2 separate regions of the Homo sapiens genome follow, and region 2 is linked to region 1. Evidence: fine-mapped expression QTL. A gene starts in region 1. The other region holds a variant in brackets. All regions are shown on one strand. Distances are between the middles of the regions. Region 1 holds the start of ANKRD30BL (ankyrin repeat domain 30B like). Region 2 holds the start of MIR663B (microRNA 663b).

Evidence for each region. PIP is the estimated chance that this variant, and not a neighbour inherited with it, causes the effect.
Region 2: its variant is the best candidate, but not a certain one, in a credible set for the expression of ANKRD30BL in putamen (GTEx, PIP 0.80).

The regions. Positions count from the first base shown.
Region 1 is chr2:132,159,860-132,164,239 of GRCh38, reverse strand. ANKRD30BL (ankyrin repeat domain 30B like) reads left to right here and starts at 2,288. Exons shown (of 6, transcript NM_001358416.1): 1 at 2,288-2,752. The coding sequence starts at 2,535. RefSeq lists an enhancer at 1,495-1,995.
Region 2 is chr2:132,254,145-132,258,524 of GRCh38, reverse strand. MIR663B (microRNA 663b) reads left to right here and starts at 1,445; the gene lies at 1,445-1,559. It also overlaps a transcript of ANKRD30BL not described here, the pseudogene LOC107985804 and the pseudogene LOC110467533. RefSeq lists a silencer at 3,135-3,429. The variant C/T (reference allele first, on the strand shown) is at 1,967.

The DNA.
Region 1 (4,380 bases):
GAAGACTGAAAGGAAGAGAAACTGCAAACAACTCATGTGATCTGGTTGGTATAGCTGTCTCCTACAGGAAATGGGATAGCGATTCTGATATTGATAGAGAATGAATGTATATTGGAACTAGACAGTTAAGCAAACGGATGACAAATGACAGGAGCCTGGTTTCTCATTATTAAAGTGGGAGGTTACATGTAAGCAAGGGGAGAAGGCCGGAATGATCATGTGATAAAAGAATTGAGTCGTAGACATCAGTATGAACTAACACTTACACACATTACATTTAGAAATATTTATAGTTATGTGTATACACAGCTTTGTATACACACATTTATTTCTTTGCTCTGTAAACTAAGACGGTCTAGAAGCAATGATATCCCAGCAGAAATGAGCATATCTAACACTCAAGTCTTCAATTCTTGGGTTTTTGTTCATGATCCAGGATCCAGGAGTTGGGCCCTGGGGCTGGGCATTGTGTAGCCTCCGGGGTGGTGCTGAGCATCCATTCCCACCCTCCTGCAGCTGGGGACCCATCCCTTGACTTGGGCCCCCTGGAGGCAAGAACATGGTCACCCACTTTAATCACATGGTCCCTATCACATAATCAGAGGGCTCTGTGGGTTTTAATTCTTCAAGCTAGATGTGTAAACAATTCGACATAGATAAGATATAGTGACTAGAAGTCTTTCATTTATTTATTTTGAGAGAGAGTCTCTGTTGCCCAGGCTTGGAGTGCAGCGGCACAAACAATCAAACAATAACCAAAATCCAGAAGACTGAAAAGGTCAAATGCTGTCAAGGATGGGGAGCAACAGGACCTCTCATTCCTTGTTTGTGGCACAATCAGTTTACTGTACCCACGAACTCCCAGGCCCAAGTGATCCTGCCACAATCAATCTCCCAAGTAGCTGGGGCCACAGGCATGCACCACCATGCCTGGCTGATTGGTTTTATTTTTATAGAGATAAAGTTTCCCTGTGTTGTCTAAGCTGGTCTCAAACTCCTGGGATCAAGTGATCCTCCTATCTCGGTCTCCCAAAGTGCTGTAAGTACAGGCATGAGGTCCTGCACCCAGCCTGGAAGTCTTTATAGATAAGTTCAATTTAACTGTTTCTCCATCTGCTCCACTCAGCCGAGTTTCCCTCTCAGTCCAAGGGTGAGAACTGCAGCTCAGCCCCATCCAGGAGGGCTGCAGATGACCCAGCGCCACTGCCATACTCCAGATGCTGGTCAACGAGGAAGGGATCCTGAGGCCTGGCAGCGGGCGCTCTCAGGAACCTTGAAGCCCTCTAAACGGGACCCGCCATCCGTGCCTGTCAGAACTGTAGCCGCTACCTGCACTTGGCGCACAGGCAAATACGGCCAAGCAACCCCAAACTCCCCTCTTCCCCTCTGGGCCCAGGCGGCGCTGAACCTGCTGCTCAGCCGCATCCTGGCGACTGCACAGTGCCCAGAGCCTGCAAACCAGCGCTCAGGGCGCGAGCCAAGGAAGAGCAGGGCCTAGAGTGGGAGGGCGTGTGCCACACGGCTACCCTCAGGCCGTCGGGCCCAGCCCTGCAGCCTCTACCGTGGGCTCAGCTGCAGCTGGCATTTGAAGGTGGCAGCAGCGGTGGCAACCCCCGAACCTGTCCGCGCCACCAGCAGGCGAACCCCAGGGTCGGACACCGCCACTGCGCCTAAGTCAGGCAGTGGGACCTCAGTTGCAGGATCGTGGGAACCTGCCGCAAAGCCTCATCGCCGCAGCTGTACAGGGCCCAGTGGTGGCAAGCCTGCGCTGCCAGCGCGAGCCGAGGAAGAGCAGAGCCCCGGGTGGAAGGGCGATGTACTCGGCGATGCTCAGCGGTCTGGGCCCAACCCTGTAGCCTCTACCATGGGCTCAGCTGCAGCTGCCACCTGAACATGGCACGTGGCAGGAGAGGCTGCAACCCTGACCCTGCCAGCGCCACCAGCCGCGCGGATACTTGGGCCAGAAGCCTCCAGGCGCCTAAGTCAGGGATGGGTCCCTGGCTGCAAGAGGCCGGGAACCGACGCTCAGCGCCACCCTGGAGGCTGCACGATGCCCAGCGCCAGGGCCCAGCTCCTGGATCTCAGGTTGAGGAGGGGACAGGGGCAGCTCTGTCAAGCAGGCCATGTGGCAGGGAGCCCCCCACGTTCCGCTCCAGGGAGCCCCGCCAGCCCGATAGCGCCTCAGTAGCAGGTGCCACCTGCACGCCGTGCTGGGCGAAGCGCAGCCAGGGCGGTTTCCTGCCTCGCGTGTCTCCCAGGTCTGCTGAGTTGCGCATGCGCTGTTGCCTAACGGTTCTGCTCAGCTGCCTAAAGGTTCTGCTCAGGTGCCTAACGGTTCTGCTCAGCTGCCTAACGGTTTTGCGCAGCCATTTTCTCCCGGGAGAGGTTGGAGTGTCCAAAAGCTTGGCCCGACTGAGATTTCTAGTCTTGTCAGGGCGGATGCAGGGACTGAAGAAGGGCGAGGGCGAGCGGCGGGGACTGGGGAAGGGCGAGCAGCGGGAGGCACGGGCTCTCTCTAGCAGGTGGCTGCAGCCATGGAGAGGCTCTCTGCCGCCCCTGTCAAGGGCCAGACGGGCCCAGAGCGCCCGAGCCCCTTCAGTCAGCTGGTCTACACCAACAACGACTCTTACGTGATTCACCATGGGGATCTCAGGAAGATCCACAAAGCTGCCTCCCGGGGCCAAGCCTGGAAGCTGGAGAGGATGATGAAGAAGACGACAATGGACCTGAACATAAGAGATGCGAAGAAGAGGTACCAGGCCCTGCCTGAGCCGGGGCTGCAGGAGGAGGAGGAGGCTGTGGGAGGATCGCCCCTTCAGAGTGGGGCCTGGGGGTCCTGGGGACGAGGGGAGCAGGTGGAGGAGTGGCGGGCAGCGGGGCGGCCGTCCTGGGCCCCGAGGTCTTGGCCTTCTTCCCGGGCAGGTCCCCCAGGCCTTGGATGAGGGCGCCCTGCAGGGCGGAGGGCACAGGCCACCTTAAAATCAACCCCAAACTTTAGCTGCTTTCTCCTTCACTCCCACTTCCTCTCACAGAGCACTGTGTAGAGAATTTTAAAGTGATTTAACTTATAAAATTAAGTACATACAGGGTTTTACTTTTAATGTACAGGTTTTAAAAGATGTTAGATACATTATGAAATGGTGCATAATGAAATAATTCCCATAATATATTAACTTCTTGGCTAAAAATTTTTTGGATAAAGTCCAGTATCCATTTCAATATCAATGAATGTCTATGTAAATATATTCTTTGCTGAGGGACCTTAGAAGGTAACTTTGAGGTGGGAAGATGGTTTATGTTTTCGAATTTAAGAAGACTCATTTTTCTGAAGATGCAAGTTCTTTATCAGTTTTACATAAACCAAATAAAGTTATCAACGTTTTAACATTTTTAAAATTACACACGCTGTCTTTTACTATTGTGGTGACATTTAAAACATTTTGTAACGGAGTAGAAAAGTCTTGCCCTTCTAGATTTCAAAATGTGCTATTAATTTGCACAAAATGGGCCATGGCCAGGCGCGGTGGATCATGCCTGTAATCCCAGCACTTTGGGAGGCCGAGGTGGGTGGATCATGAGGTCAGGAGATCGAGACCATCCTGGCTAACACGGTCTCTACTAAAAATACAAAAAATTAGCCGGGCGTGGTGGTGGGCGCCTGTAGTCCCAGATACTTGGGAGGCTGAGTCAGGAGAATGGTGTGAACCTGGAAGGCAGAGCTTGGAGTGAGCCGAGATCGCACCACTGCACTCCAGCCTGGGTGACAGAGCAAGACTCCGTCTCAAAATAATAATAATAAATAAATAAATAAATAAAATTTGAAAAAAAAAAAAAAAAAGGGCCAGGCGTCGTGGCTCATGCCTGTAGTCCCAGCACTTCGGGCGGCCAAGGCGGGTGGATCACCTGAGGTCAGGATTTCAAGACTAGCCTGGCCAATATAGTGAAACCTCAAATCTACAAAAATACAAAAATTAGCCAGGCAGGATGTCGGGAGCCTGTAAGCCCATCTACTCGGGAGGCTGAGGAGGGAGAATCGCTTGAAACTGGGAGGCGGAGGTTGCAGTGAGCTGAGATCCCATCACTGCACTCTAGCCTGGGAGACAGTGAGACTCTGTCTCAAAAATAAATAAATAAATCACAAATTATTTGATAACAGCTGAAAAGACAGGTAAATGAATACAACAGAGTAGAAAATCCAGAAACACCCAAATATCTAAGAATTTAGAACTTGATAATGCTCACAGGTTATACTAGTAGGGAAAGAATTAGTTTCATAAGTGAAATGCCTGCTTTTTGGAGAAAACTAGATTTTTATGCCACAAAGTAAATTTCTGATGGAATATAGATTAAATTTTTTTAATATACAAAATGATAAAAGCA
Region 2 (4,380 bases), 94 kb before region 1:
AGTAGAGACGGGGTTTCACTGTGGTAGCCAGGATGGTCTCGATCTCCTGACCGTCGTGATCCGCCCGCCTCGGCCTCCCAAAGTGCTGGGATTACAGGAGTAAGCCACCGCTCCCGGCCTACTTATCTATTTATTAACTTTGAGTCCAGTTTATGAAAACAGTTAGTTTTTGTATTTTTTTAGAGACGAGGTTTCACCATGTTGCCAAGGCCTGGATCGAGGGATCCACCTTCCCTCGCCTCCCAAAGTGCGGGGATGACAGGCGTGAGCCTACCACGCCCGGCTCCTCCCCTTCACCCCCCAGCTTATCCCTCAGGTGCCCGAGGTCGAGTGGTGGTGTGTGGTTCCCACCCCCAGCGCCCCCTCCTCCGGTCACCGCCGCGATGTCCACCAGTGGGTCCTGAGGGAGCTCGTTGGTGTGGGGGTCGAGGCGGTTGAGTGAGACGCGCCCCTCCCACGCGGGGAAGGGTGCCGCCTGATCTGGCGAGCGCAGGTCCCGTGCTCCCCTCTGGCGGCTGCGCACGGGCCGTGTGAGCTATTGCGGTGGGCTGGGGCAGATGACGCGTGCGCCGGCCGGCCGCCGAGGGGCTACCGTTCTGCCTCCGACAGGTTGTGTGTGGGTTTACTTGGAGGTGCTTTGCCTGGGAGAAAGGAGGCTGGTGGACTAGGGGGCCCTTCGGGGATTGCGCGCACGCGCAGCGGCCAGGCCCCCTGCCCAGACCGCGAAGGCTCAAGGTTGCCGCACGCAGATTTTTCCTGGTACCGCAGGCCCCCTCCCTTCCCCAGGCGTCCCTGAGCGCCTCTGCGGGCCCGACGAGGGGCGACTGGCGTGTGGGGAGTGTGACCCACCCTCGGTGAGAAAGCCTTCTCTAGCGATCTGAGAGGTGTGCCTTTGGGGTACCGGATCCCCCGGCCTGCCGCCTCTCTTTGCGTTATGGTAGCGCTGCCGTGGCGACTGGCTTGCAGAGGACCCTCCTCCACTTCCCCCTTGATGAGGTGAGTGGGGGAAAGCAAGGGTTCCGCCAGCCTCCGCGGTGGGGACCCAGGGAAGCTCGTCGCCTACTGTGTGGCCCGCGCCTTCCCCTTCCGAGTCAGGGGAGAATCCCGCCGGGCCGGGCCGGCGTCCTAGCGGTTGGGAGGCTGCGTGAGCGGTGGCTGTGCCTGGCGTTCAGTCCGGCTTGTGACCCGTTCCGCTGTGAGCCGGCTCTCTGCCCGCTCCCCTGCAGAGCAGCGACCGGTGCCGACGACCGTGTTTGCGTGGCACGGGGTTGGGCCGCCTGGCCCTGGGAAGCGTCCCAAGTGGGGGGCATGCCGGTCTCCTGGAGCTTGACCGGGTTGGAGGATGGATGAGAAACGAGCAACGTGGCCCTGGCGTTAGGTTTGTGGCTGAGGTCACCTCGGGGTCCTGATGGCGGGACCTGGGGCTCATGAGGCGGGTCTCGGTGGTGCCGAGGGCCGTCCGGCATCCTAGGCGGGTCGCTGCGGTACCTCCCTCCTGTCTGTGGCGGTGGGATCCCGTGGCCGTGTTTTCCTGGTGGCCCGGCCGTGCCTGAGGTTTCTCCCCGAGCCGCCCCTCTGCGGGCTCCCAGGTGCCCTTGCCCTCGCGGTCCCTGGCCTTGCCTGTCTGTGCCCCCCACCCTGCCCGCGGATCCTCTCTCCCCGAGCGGCTCACCGCCTTAGGCTGTGGTGGCCCCGTCTGGGACCAAACCCGGCTCTGCCTGGTGGGGCGCCGCCGCTAGCCACTGGTTGGCCCGTTGTCCGTGTCCCCGGGCGTGCGCCTTCGGGACCAGGTCGGCGGCACCCCGAGTGGGCCTGGTGGACACCCGGAGGGTTTGGGGTCGGCCAGCAGTGTGTGCAGGGAAGAGGGTTCAGGGGGCTGGCCGCGACAGTGGCGGCGGTGGGGAAGCCGCAGGCCCGCCGAAGGCCAGTCGGCCGCTCCAGGTGCCGCGAGGGGCCGCCTTCATGC[C/T]CCGAGGCCACTGGCGGTGAGACCCCAGGCACCGCGGTCCGCCTCTCCTTCGCTGCCCAAACGTCGGGGCCGCCCCGCGCCCTCCGCGCATGAGTGGCCGCCGGTCCCTCGCGGCTGCCGCACACGGGTCGGGCGGTCGGCCTCCTCGCACATGGGCACGAAGGGTCGGGAGTGGTGAGCCCGTCGGGGGGTTTTGTGTCCTGTGGGTGGATGGGATGTCCGGTTCGCCGCCCCACCACCCCCCTCCCACCACCCCAAGCTGCTCCCTCCCTCCCCCACGCCCCATCGCCCGCCCTGCCGCGCCCAATCTCGCAACTGGGACGCCGGGCTCATCCTCGCGAGTCCCAGAGGCCGCTTTCTACCTACCTGGTTGATCCTATCAGAACCATATGCTTGTCTCAAAGATTAAGCCATACATGTCTAAGTACGCAGGGCTGGTACAGTAAAACTGCGAATGGCTCATTAAATCAGTTATGGTTCTTTTGGTCGCTGGCTCCTCTCCTACTTGGAAAACTGTGGTAATTCTAGAGCTATTACATGCTGAAGGGCACTGACCCCCTTCACAGGGAAGATGCGTGCATTTATCAGATCAAAACCAACCCAGTCAGCCCCTCTCCGTCCCCGGCCGGGGGGTCGGGTGCCGCCAGCTTTGGTGCTTCTGGATAACCTCGGGCCAATCGCACGCCCCCCGTGGCAGCGATGACCCATTCGAATGTCTGCCCTATCAACTTTCTATGGTAGTCGCTGTGCCTATCATGGTGACCACGGGTGACAGGGAATCAGGGTTCAATTCTGGAGAAGGAGCCTGAGAAATGGCTACCACATTCAAGGAAGGCAGCAGACACTCAAATTACCCACTCCTGACACGGGGAGGTAGTGACGAAAAATAACAATACAGGACTCTTTCTAGGCCCTGTAATTGGAATGAGTGCACTTTAAATCTTTTAATGAGGATCAATTGGAGGGCAAGTCTGGTGCCAGCAGCCGTGGTAATTCCAGCTCCAATAGCGTATATTAAAGTTGTTGCAGTTAAAAAGCTCGTAGTTGAATCTTGGGAGCGGGTGGGCTAGCGAGCCACAGCCCGTCCCTGCTTCTTGCCTCTCGGTGCCCCCTGGATGCTCTTAGCTGAGTGTCCTGTGGCCCGAAGCACTTACTTTGAAAAAATTAGAGTGTTCAAAGCAGGCCCAAGCCGCCTGGATACTGCAGCTTGGAATAATGGAATAGGACCACAGTTCTATTTTGTTGGTTTTCGGAACTGAGGCCATGATTAAGAGGGACGGCCGGGGGCATTCATATTGCACCGCTAGAGGTGAAATTCTTGGACTGGCAGTTTAGACCAGAGCGAAAGCATTTGCCAAGAATGTTTTCATTAATCAAGAACGAAAGTCGGAGGTTCGAAGACGATCAGATACCGTTGTAATTCCGACCATAAACGATGCCAACTGGCGATGTGGCGGTGTTATTCCCATGACCCGCTGGGCAGCTTCCAAGAAACCAGTCTTTGGGTTTTTGGGTTCCGAGGGGAGTATGGTTGCAAAGCTGAAACTTAAAGGAATTGACAGAAGGGCACCACCAGGAGTGGAGCCTGCAGCTTAATTTGACTCAACATGGGAAAACTCACCCAGCCTGGACACGGACAGGATTGACAGATTGATAGCTCTTTCTCGATTCCACGGGTGGTGGTGCATGGCCTTAGTTGCTGGAGTGATTTGTCTGGCTAATTCCAATAACGAACGAGACTCTGGCATGCCAACTAGTTATGTGACCCTGGAGCGGTCGGCATCCCCCAACTTCTTAGAGGGACAAGTGGCGTTCAGCCACCTGAGATTGAGCAATAACAGGTCTGTGATGCCCTTAAATGTCCAGGGCTGCACGCGCGCTACACTGACTGGCTCAGCGTGTGCCTACCCTATGTGGCAGATGTGGGTAACCTGTTGAACCTCATTGGCGATGGTGATCAGGGATTGCAATTTTTCCCCATGAATGAGGAATTCCCAGTAAGTGCTGGTCATAAGCTTGCATGAAGTCCCTGCCCTTTGTACACACTGCAGTCGCTACTCCTGATTGGATGGTTTAGTGAGGCCCTCGGATCAGCCCGCTGGGTCAGCCCACTGCCCTGGCGGAACGCTGAGAAGACAGTCGAACTTGACTATCTAGAGGAAGTAAAAGTCGTAACAAAGTTTCGGTAGGTGAACCTGCGGAGGGATCATTAACAGAGAAGAGCGAAGCCACGGAGACGCCGCCATGTCCTTCCTCCTTGGCTGACCGTGTTCCCCTGTGGCGCATGCATGGGCGGAGTCGTGCCCTTTGTTCGTTGCATGGCCCCACCTGCCCCGAGAGCCAGAGAACTCGGGAGGGAGAGAGGGGGTAGAAAGAGACATGCGTGTGGGGATGAAACCGTGTGTGCGTGTCGT